Linked DNA regions of Homo sapiens. The protein of the gene in region 3 interacts with the protein of the main gene of each other region in a pairwise test. Each region holds a gene or a part of one and is shown on either strand. Other genes may lie near its edges. The genes, in order: KRTAP4-2, CRACR2A and ZNF20.

Region 1 (3,388 bases), on a different chromosome or scaffold from region 3:
AATACTGAGATTAGGAATGCTGCTGTTTTAGATTGTGTGCTCTCTGGGGCAAACCCACAAAAGAGGATCTGAGAACATGTGGTATATTTGGACGATTAACCCAAGAAACACTGGAGGAAACTTGAAGAATGACCCTGGGAAGGAGGGAAAGTCATTATAGAGTGAGTTCATGATCAGAATGTTCCTGCAGGCATCTGGTATAAATCCCGCTGAAGACCTCTGGAAGACTGGTTTGACATACCCCCCACTGGAGGGAAACAAGCCAGGGCATATATTACCAACTCCCACTCATTCTCTGAGTGCTGTTCCTAGAGGCTTTAAGTCTCCAGCCCAGAGTTTGCTCCTTTATCCAGAGAAAGTCCTCAGGTAGAGAGTTCCAGGTGCCTGCTCTAAGGAACCATTTTCCTATGTTTGAATGGAGAGTGCTGATAGGATAGAGGTGGAGCCCCTGATATCATCTGCTGTGGTCTTCTCCCTCTGCAGGGAAGAACATCAGAAAATTTGACAGGTAAGGATGAGAATTCAAGAAGGAAAAATGAGACACAATGCCCGTATATTATTTGTATGCCTCAAAAATTAAAATTTATTTAAGATAGAGGAATAGCTCCATGTGATAAATTATGGTAGAGAGCAAATATTTCAATTCAGGGAACATGGGGTTGACATATTTCAGAGAAAATTCAAACTTGTATTCATTTGGTAGAGGGTAGCAACATAGTGTTTGGTGAGCATATTTGGAGGCCAAACTCAATCCAAGAATTGGTTGGAACTGAGGTTGTCCAATTGGCCTTGCATGATTCAGTTCACAGGTGGATCATATCAAGAATGCTGGTTAATAAAGGCAGGTGAGTATAGGTGAGGGCATCAGCAGCAAGAGCCACTAGAGCAGGTTGGGCGGCAGCAGGTGGACACACAGCAGCTGGGGCGGTAGCAGGTGGTCCTGCAGCAGGTGGTCTGGCCACAGCTGGGGCGGCAGCAGGTGGGCTGGCAGTACACAGACTGGCAGCACTGGGGTCTGAAGCAGCTGGACACACAGCAGCTGGGACGGCAGCAGGTGGTCCTGCAGCAAGTGGTCTGGCAGCAGCTGGGGCTGCAGCAGGTGGGCTGGCAGCACACAGACTGGCAGCACTGCGGTCTGCAGCAGCTGGACACACAGCAGCTGGGGCGGCAGCAGGTGGTCCTGCAGCAGGTGGTCTGGCAGCAGCTGGGACGGCAGCAGTTCTCTAGGCCACAGCCCTGGTCAGAGCACACAGAGCCACAACAGGAGTTGACCATGGTGTCAGAGGGTGGAGGTTCTGGGTGGATTTCCAGGAAGGTGGGTTTGGAAGGTTTGGAAGTTTCCTTGCCCCAGATCCTCTTTTATACCCTGCTAAGGCCTGATGTCATCAGATGCAACACTCTTTCCTTGTTATTATTTGTCCTGATATGTAGGCAATTATCAAATTAGGCAAGTTTGTTGTTCTGGTTAACTTATCCACATAGATGGAAACACTGTCTCCTTTCCCTAATGTGTTAGGACTCCTTAGCTCAGCTCTTCCTGAACCACCTCCTGTGTCTCTCTTACTATAGCTTCCTCCTAGAGCAGCCATGTGACATCTGCCTGTAAGCACATACTATGTGCTTCAGTCTCATTTGCTTAACACATCATGACTACTCTTGGGTGATTACTATTCTTACAGGCCCTTGACTCTTTCTGGTGACTCAGGAGGATAAAGCTGCATTTCAGTCTGATGGCTCCTTCATTATGGGTCAGATGGCCTGTGAAGGTTTCAGTGTGAAACAGATTTCAGTGTGAAACAGATGACCACTGGTGTGAGAACGAGAACACCGTAGGACCTATCGCTTTTTTATCTTCCGCACTCTGAATTGTGACCCATTTTCTAGACCTTCTGATGAGAAATACAGAGCTGTTTTAAGGTGGAAAACTAAGCTGTGAAAGTTTGATGTTTCCTTTTCTACAGAAACAACCCTCCAAAATTCAGATTCAGGGCCTCTTGGGGAATGTTGGCTTCAGAGAACAGCTATACTTAAAGGTCCAAGTCCCTCATTTTTTTGCTCCCTGGGGCAGATTTTCCTTGTGACTTTGCCTTTCTGCCTTCCTAGCTCTAACAGGGCACATGAGCTCATCTCTCCAGGTTCCAAAATTTTCTGGCCAACCCAAATTAGATGACTCAGTATCCTTTGCTTGCTCTAATTCGCTCCCAGCCCTCTTGCTTTCTCTGCTGAATTGCTGGGCCTTGAAGATGTCCTATACTCTGCTGCTTCCTTATAGAAGTTGTTGATCCAATTTCACACTTTACATCTTTGTTTTCAAAAAATAAATCAATAAAGAGAGAAAGAAAGCAGAAAACAGGTATCAAGAACAAAGGATATCAGCCTATATTTTTTCATGTAGGGATGGCTGACTATTGTTTCAAAAATGTGCTATGTTGTCAATTCATTAACTCATCAGTTAATAAATATATATGTATTTCCCCACCCCTGAGGAGTCAAGGAACCCAGGGAAGGGGGTGGAAAAATGTCTGACTTACCATGATAGAAATGTTTTATGAACTGGGCAGCCTCTGCAGATAATCAGGGGAGGAGTTTCAGTGTAAGCTGGTGTTTCTGAGGGAGATCCAAGAACCAGATGGAGGGGATTGGATGAATGAGGGAGATTCCCTTTCTTCTCTCAGGTGCTTATAAGTCTAATAAATCAAATTGTGGTGTTCTTATGATGCTGCTATGTTCCAAGCCAGTTCCTACTCCTGCCCTGGCCCTAATTTCCAGGTGATTCAAGCAGAATGAAAACAACTTGGGCTCCCAAGTGAACCCCTGCTTGGTGCGCTGGCTGGTGTTCTGAGCCTGCACTGTTCTCTGGCTCTGATGTACCCAGACATCATATTTTATTGAGGGATGAAAGTGGGTTCCATGATGCTGTGGAATTAAGACCCTGTGAGCCCCATGGTGGTGTACGAGAACAACTCTAAGATTTCCAGGAGACCTTGTATTCTGGAAAAGAATCGTGCCCTTGAGAAGCCGTGACGATTGGTGCCTGCTGATGATTCAGTAGAGATCACTTTATATTAACTATTTTTCTTCATGATGTGAGTGTGTGTGAGTGTGTGTGTGTGTGTGTGTGTTTTCCTTAAGATAAATTTACATTATATTTAGGAATCTCTCACGATTTCTTCTAGTACTTTAACAATTTCATTTTTTCTACCTCTACTCAGCTATAATTGAAATATAAAATTGTATGTATATAAGGTGTACACCCTGATGCTCTGATATGTATATATTGTGAAATTATTGTCATGATCAAATTAGTTCACCTCCACCACTTCACATAGTTACCATTTTTTGAGTGTGTGTAGTGAGAACATTTTAGATCTAGTCTTTCAGCAAATTT
Region 2 (3,750 bases), on a different chromosome or scaffold from region 3:
GGAGGATTAAATGAGATTAAACATGAAAATCTCCTACCACAGGCCCTGGCACATGGCAGATGACTTTTCCCCTACCCCCAAGCCTTTTAGCCCCTTCCTGTCCATTCCCACCAGCCCTGTTCAACCCCTCATGGTGACTGCAATGGGCTTCTTCCCAGGTTCTCTTCCCACAGCTTCCTCCACTGCAGTACATCCCATACCCAGGTGCAGATGACATGTTCTTCTGAACCCAGCTCCAGGAACAACACTTCCCTTCTTAGAAACCATCAAAATATCCCTAGGCTTAATAATGAAGTTTCTAGACTCGTAACACTCCAAGCCTCTGCCATCTCTCCCAGGCAGCACTCCTCACCGGATTGTCCACTACATTACTCCTTGCTCCTCAGGTACAACCCACCTTCACGGCTTTGCTCAGCCGTCCTTCCCCAAGATGCCCAGACCCAGCCTCCTATTCAAGGCCCGGCCTCAGTGCCACATCCAGGACGCCCTCTGCGAGTCACTCCTTCCAGAAGTAACCTCCCTCCTCCAAACTCCCTCTACACACTTTATAGTATAGAACCGAGAGGTGACAGGACCTCGGAAGCCGTACCTGAAGCCTCTCACTTATAGAACCGAGAGGTGACAGGACCTCGGAAGCCATACCTGAAGCCTCTCACTTATCACTTAAAAACTGCGCATGAAGTAGCTCTTATGGGCAAATACTAAACCATGAGGTTGTACATATTCATTTCACCTGAAAAGGGGCATGAACTCTGGACCCTTCAACAAAAATGCTGATTCCACGTGGAGCAAACTGCTCTGATTTCATATCCCTATGCCCACATCCTTGATAAAAAGACTCTTCGGTACATGCTGCTTTCTTCCAGAGACAAGGAACCCATCACCTCATGAGTTAGGTTCTTCCTCCTGACCCTCTGACCACCCTGGGGACTCCCACGGATTGGCTCTTTCTGTCCTCTTGAGTCACACAGAACGAATTCCTTTGAGACTCCTGGTGTCCTCCACAGAGCCAAACAGGGCAGGTTCCTAAGCACACTGTGTAAACAGATAAATGAACTCAGAGGGCTTTCCCACGTGGCAGGGTACATTCGCTGCATCCCGTGCATGCATGGGTGCACAGACACACACTCGCACACACACGGACACACACACACACACACGGACACACACACACAGACACACACACACACGGACACACACACACACGGACAGAGTCAGCACAACGCCTCTGAGCCACACAGCCAGGCCAGCACACGCGGGGGCCAGGGCGGAAGCCAAGCCCCAGCAGCCGCCCACTTCCTGACCTCCTTCCTTTGCTCTGGGAGGTTCTCTCTCTGTGTCTTTCTGACTGTCTGTCTCGGTTCTTTGTTTCTCGGCATGGCAACAGTTGTGGATGCTGCCTGCGTGGCCAGGGCTCCTAGTAGCACTGACCTGCAAGGTAGGAGTTTTGGTTCTTAGACTTGAGACCTTGGGCAAGTCACTTTACCATTCTGAGCCTCAGTTTCCTCATCTGTGAAATGAAGAGGCTGGATGAGGCTGGAGGGTTCCTAAGGTCCTTTCCTGACCAAAACCCTAGTGCTTCTCGGCTCTCCTCCAGTCCCGTTACCGAGTGACAGGGAGGGGAGCAAGGGCCAGGCCAGGCCTGGGGGTGGCAGGGGAGCCAGCTGTTCCCCCCCAAGGGCACACAGCCTCCATCCAGGCCCTCTGCGAGTTCCATGTGCGGCAGACACGCGCTCACACTTCGCAGCCGGAGGAGCAGGCAGGAAGCGCCGCCCCCCGGCCGCCCCGGCCGCCCACCCTCAACCTTCCTCCACGTTACCTTGGGCGTGTAGGCTTCCCGTGGACCTGCCCGCGCCGCCCGCTCGGCTCTCAGCTGTCAAGCAGCCGCCTGCTCCGCCCGACTCTTTCCGCTCCGAGCCGCGCGGGCTGGACCAGCCCCTCAGCGGAGCTGAACGGGAAGCGGCGCCCCCTGGACGCCCTCCGGGACGTGCGCGCGCCAAGCGGTGGGGTCCGGGCCTGCAGGCGCGACCTGAGGCCGCCAGGGAGGCTGGGTGGCGAGGGCGGGGCGGCTGCCGACTTAGCCGGCCTGACTGGTCGGGCTTCCGGGGTCCCGCTGCTCCCTAGGCCCCTTGCCCCGATTCAGGCTCCCAAGGTGGGGCATCAGTCCGGCCCTCGCTGGCTCACTGGAGAGGTGGTGTCTGGGAGTGCACCCCCGAAAACCCGGCAGCAGCCCGGCGTCACTCCGGCTGTTACCTCTGGGAGCAGAAACTAAAGGGGATCCTTATTCTTTATACTTTTCTGACTCTTCTATATATTCTACTGTGGGCATGAATCGTTAAAAACAAAACAAAACACCAAAAACCCAATACGTATTTGTTAATAAAGCACTGAGTAAATCTTCAAAGGCCTCCCGAGGTGCTCCGGCTGCAGGATAACCCCTCAGCTTAGCGCACAAGGCAAGGCCCACCCTGCCCTCTCCGGCCACAACCTAATTTTCCAGCCTCACCCTCTCTCCCTCACACACACACAACACTTTCGCTCTGGACACACTAGCTGTTGCCAAACACCAGCTGTTCTTCATGGCTGCTGGGAGTTCTTCTTTTTGCCTGGAACACCCTCCCCTTTCATCTCTGCCTGTTGAAATCCTACTCATCCATCCAGGCCCCTCTGAAATGTCACCTTTTTGGAGAACCCTTCCCCAGACACTGCCCCTGCAGAGTGCCCCAGTTCTTTCCTGGCAAGCCCATCTTTCTGGTACTGGTTTATGTAGTAGCATCCCCCTCTCACACGCGCTAAGTCCTATTCCAAGGTGGAGAGAAACAAATTAGCACTTACTGAGCAGCTGTTATAAATTACTCTGTGGAGTCCTTTCTTCTCCTTGCAGCCCAGCCAGCCACTAGCCCACAACCTCCCTCCACCCTGCCAGAGTTTCAGAAGGCTGTCAGGGGCTCTGAGGCCTGCCCTCTGGTGTGTCCCTACTGCGTGCCTTGGCTTTTCTGGCTCTGTCCTGGGTATGCTTCCCTGTGTCAACTCCCAAGGTCTGCAAGCTGGTGGCTTGACCTTCTCTCAGCCTTATGTGAGGAAAGAAGGACATTTCATTATCAGAATCTGAGAAGTGGAAGGGGCCTCAGAGATTATCCAGTGTAAAGCCTGCCCACCCATTTTACAGAGCAGAAAACTGTGACCAGAGAGATAAGGTCAGAGGCATCGGAGGTACCTACCATTGTTATTGTTGTTTTTAATAGTGTTAATACTTGCACGTTTAGATCGCCTTTCACTTCTAAATCAATGCGTTGTCATTCATTTGCCCCTTACAGTCTCAGAGGTATTACAGTGGTTAGTGCACAGACTCTGGAGGCCAAAGCCCTGGGTTTGAATCTCAGTGCTCCAACTTGCCAGCTACGTCCTTGGCAAGTTACTGGAACTTTCTCCATCAGTACAATGTGGATAGTAACAGCTCCTGCATCATGGGGTGTTCTATGAATCGAAATAAATGTGTATCTTTAAAGGGCTTAGAATAGTAGTAGGTTCATTAAAAATGCCAAATGTATTTGCTCTTATCAAATTTTTGTTATTGTTAATTGTATCACTTCACAGTTGGAATAACAGAGGCTCAGAAAGGCTGAGACTCATCCAAAAAATTGCTGCTTTGAGGATGGTTTCTCACCAAACTCCATGCAGTCATCTTTGTCTCTGATGCCATTCTGCTTCCTGTTCCCTTGTGTCTGAGTCTAACCACCTATTTAATAG
Region 3 (3,750 bases):
TTCAATTCAGCCTGGGTTACAAAGAGAGACTTTCTCTCAAAAAAAAAAAAAAAAAAGGAAACAACCCAAAGACATTCTGAGATGGTGTCTGTGCCTTACGAAGATAAGAGGAGAGGAACAGAGGTTTTTCACTGGAGTATCAAGTGGTTATTCTCTATTCTATGTGAAATGTTCAGAAACAGAACACAAATATTTTAAAAAAAGTTATCCATGACCTTGTGAAAAGATGATAAACCACTAAAATACTGCATCTATGTGAAAGAAAGGATGAAGAAATATACTCTACAATAAAGAAAGTTGATACAGGAGGCTGAGGCAGGAGAATCACTTGAACCCGGGAGGCAGAGGTTGCAATGAGCCAAGATCATGCCATTGCATTCCAGCCTGGGCAACAAGAGCGAAACTCCGTCTCAAAAAAAAAAGAAAGTTGATAATACTGTGAGTTGGAGAAGGGGAGTTAATGTTTGGAGATGCGGAAAAGTAATTGAAAATTTAAGATGTTACTGCAAACTGCTGAAGAGTTAGGGCGGGGTAGCAGGGTGGAGGATTTGAGACCCATACATTAGGAAAATGCAGGAGGAAGCCAGTCCCTATAGACAGTGTGAAAAAATTTAAAGCAGCAGCAATTAGACTGAAGTGTGTTTAGTGCTATAAGAAACTACCTAAGGACACCAAAATCAAACTCAAATTGAGGCAGGAAAATAGGGTCTGGACGCAGGGAACATAAGGCCTATTCAAACTTCAGCTATGAAAGGAAATACCTACTCCATAGGGCGTAAGCCAAGTAAATGATTTTATAACCTTACTTCATCCTCTCCTTTTACATAGAGTATACCCCAAGTAACCAATGGAATCCTCCAGGGGGTATTTAAACTCCCAAAAATTCTGTAACGGGGCCTTTGAGCCCCTGTGCTCAGCCCCGCTTGCACACTGTGGAGTGTTAAATCCCTTCATTCCTTCCTTGCTTTGTGCGTTTTGTCCAATTCTTTGTTCAAGACGCCAAGAACCTGGACCCCCTCCACCGTTAACAAAATGCAATTCTTCTTAAAACTTTCTGGTACCAAAACCACAAATCATGACTGGGCGTTTCTCACTCATGAATCGCTGTTTGCTCAAACTCTTTAAATTTTTTTTTTTTTTTGAGATGGAATCTCGCTCTGTCCCCTAGGTTGGAGTGCAGTGGCGTGATCTCGGCTCACTGCAACCTTCGTCTCCTGGGGTCATGCGATTCTCCTGCTTCAGCCTCCTGAGTAGCGGGGACTACAGGCGCATGCCACCATGCCCGGCTAATTTTTTGTATTTTTAGTAGAGACGGGGTTTCACTGTGTTAGCCTGGATGGTCTCGATCTCCTGACTTCGTGATCCGCAAGCCTCGGCCTCCCAAAGTGCTGGGATTACAAGCATGGTCCACCGCGCCCGGCCCAAACTCTTTAACAGAAAAAAAAATCCGCAGGATTCCCCCATGACCCTCCCGTGGTCCCCGCAAAATCTGAAGAGACGCGGGGCTGCAGGCGCGGAGCTGCCCAGAGAGGGCTCCAGGGTCGGGGCCCACAGTCGCCCGCGCAGGAACAGAACAGGAGGACGCCCGGGGTCCCGGCTGCCGGCCCAGCCGCACCCTGCGGCCGAGGGGACGCAGGGACGAGCTGAGACAGAGGGATTCGGGTCCCAGATCCAGGAGGCGCGGCGAGGAGGCCCAGATCCCACCACAGCCGCTTCCGGCCGGTTCCACCCAGCCCCTCCCCCGTCTGGGGACTCCGGCCCCATACACTCACCATTTCCCGGCTTCTGGGTGTCCCGGTGTCCTCTCTAGGGCTCCCGTGAATAGTGCGGGTCACGGTGCAGGCGGCAGAGCGACAGAAGTTGTGGCAGAGGGACCCGGGGCCTCTCGGAGTAGGAAATCTGGTATCCCGACAACAACCTGCATAGCAACAAAAGTAGAAGCTGGAATGGGCCTCCTCCTTCCGGACGGACCGTTGGCCGGGCTCCGCCCCGGCGCTTCTGATTGGACAAGGTACAAGGCCCCGCCCCCTCAGAACTGAGTGACGGCAGAAGCCCTGGGTAACGAGCCCTGCAAAGCCGGACTGATCGGTTCTAGCCACAGCTTCTCTCTAAGGGACAACTCCTTCCCTGAGCCCTGGTCATTGGATATTTTCTTTTCAGCCAAATTTGCTCCTGATTTTTACACAGGGCACTATCTTCTTCCTCATTCAATGGGCTGTCAGTGCTTCTTCGTCCTGCACAGGGTTGTAAGTGTGTGCAGGGAATTCCAGACTGAGTGTCCAATGGAGCGATGTGCTGACCTCAGAGCAGGAAGGGGAGCCCAGATCAGGCCAGGCACGACTGCACCAAGAAGGAGAGGCAGTTGTCCTTCAGGGGCCCGGAATTAGGGATGAGACATGGCCAAGGCTTTCACACATCTCACCCCACCTCACAGTGTGGAAACTCTCCCTCCTTCCAGACCTTCATCTTCATCGGCAGAAAACTCTCACTTGGTGATTTTAAGCTTCTGACCTAAATAAACTGTCAACTGCATAAGCCCCTTCTCCAGGAGAGGTCCCAAACAGTTATTTCCCTGAACTTGATCTTTACGGATTTTCTTCAGATATGCAAATTACAGTCTGACCCCAGGGACTCTATGCATGTCAAACCCAAAACACTGCTCCCGAAAACCGCCCCAGATTCCAGATGTACAGCCGCAGAAAGGACAGAACTCCTGAAGTGCACCTGCACGTGGGTCTCCTGCTTTCCAGGGCGCTGCAGCATGTCAGAACCCACACTCTTTCTGGATCTGCTCTGAGCAGCTGCAAGCCACCTGCAGGGGAGGGCGGCTGCCCAGGAAGCACCCAGAACTCCACTTCACTCCTTGGCAGGATCCATACTAGCCTCAGCGTCCCGTCCCTGGCGTCGGTCTCTGCTGCCCCCTGCAGGTTATTCACCTGCTTCTCACATCATTCATCAGTTTCCATGAGACAAACATCCTCAATCCCACTGCGAGAATAACACACGAGCAAAGCTCTCCTCCAGTGTGTATGTATAAAGTCGAGGAGGAAGTGTCCAAGATTATTTAACTGCATGAAAGTGAGGCAGTAGTGGCTGGGCGCTGTGGCTCAAGCCTGTAATCCCAGCACTTTGGGAGGGCGAGGTGGCTGGATCACCTGAGATCAGGAGTTGGAGACCAGCGTGACCAACATGGTGAAATCCCGTCTCTACTAAAAATACAAAAATTAGCCGGGTGTGGTAGAGCCCACCTGTAATCCCAGCTACTCGGGAGACTGAGGCAGAAGAATCGTTTGTATCAAAGAGGCTGAGGTTGCAGAGAGCCGAGATTGCACCACTGCACTACAGCCTGGGCAATAGAGCGAGACTCTGTCTCAAAACAAAACAAAAAAACACACAAATGTTTAGTCATGTTACTTATTTCTGGTTTCCAGCCTGACTTTATAACATTCCTGACTCTGGGACTCTCCAGCTCTCCAGAATTATGCTTTGAAGAAAAAACAAGATAGAGCACAGGGCCCACATGTCTCTTATAAACTGTGAACCAAAATATTACATAGCAGCCATCTGTCAGAACTGCTTCCAGGCTATTGTCCTCAGTCACAATCCTAAATCAAACTCACTTTCTTTAACAAATTTAATTTTTTTTCTTCAGTCCACATGAGTAATCTAAAAGAAACACATAGACAGAAGAATCTCTTTATTATCATCTTTCTACCAAGTCAACATCAAGCATTAAAAAAATGTAAAACA

Evidence for each region.
Region 1: the proteins of ZNF20 (region 3) and KRTAP4-2 interact in binary tests that used the Homo sapiens proteins (3 or more experiments, as listed by UniProt).
Region 2: the proteins of ZNF20 (region 3) and CRACR2A interact in binary tests that used the Homo sapiens proteins (3 or more experiments, as listed by UniProt).

What each region holds. Positions count from the first base shown.
Region 1 is NC_000017.11:41,176,890-41,180,277, forward strand, and holds KRTAP4-2 (keratin-associated protein 4-2), read right to left. Parts: upstream 1,333-3,388; 5' UTR 1,276-1,332; coding exon 865-1,275; 3' UTR 557-864; downstream 1-556. UniProt on the Homo sapiens protein: In the hair cortex, hair keratin intermediate filaments are embedded in an interfilamentous matrix, consisting of hair keratin-associated proteins (KRTAP), which are essential for the formation of a rigid and resistant hair shaft through their extensive disulfide bond cross-linking with abundant cysteine residues of hair keratins.
Region 2 is NC_000012.12:3,751,196-3,754,945, forward strand, and holds the start of CRACR2A (EF-hand calcium-binding domain-containing protein 4B), read right to left. Parts: upstream 1,915-3,750; 5' UTR 1,820-1,914; intron 1-1,819.
Region 3 is NC_000019.10:12,138,408-12,142,157, forward strand, and holds the start of ZNF20 (zinc finger protein 20), read right to left. Parts: upstream 1,944-3,750; 5' UTR 1,776-1,943; coding exon 1,773-1,775; intron 1-1,772. UniProt on the Homo sapiens protein: May be involved in transcriptional regulation.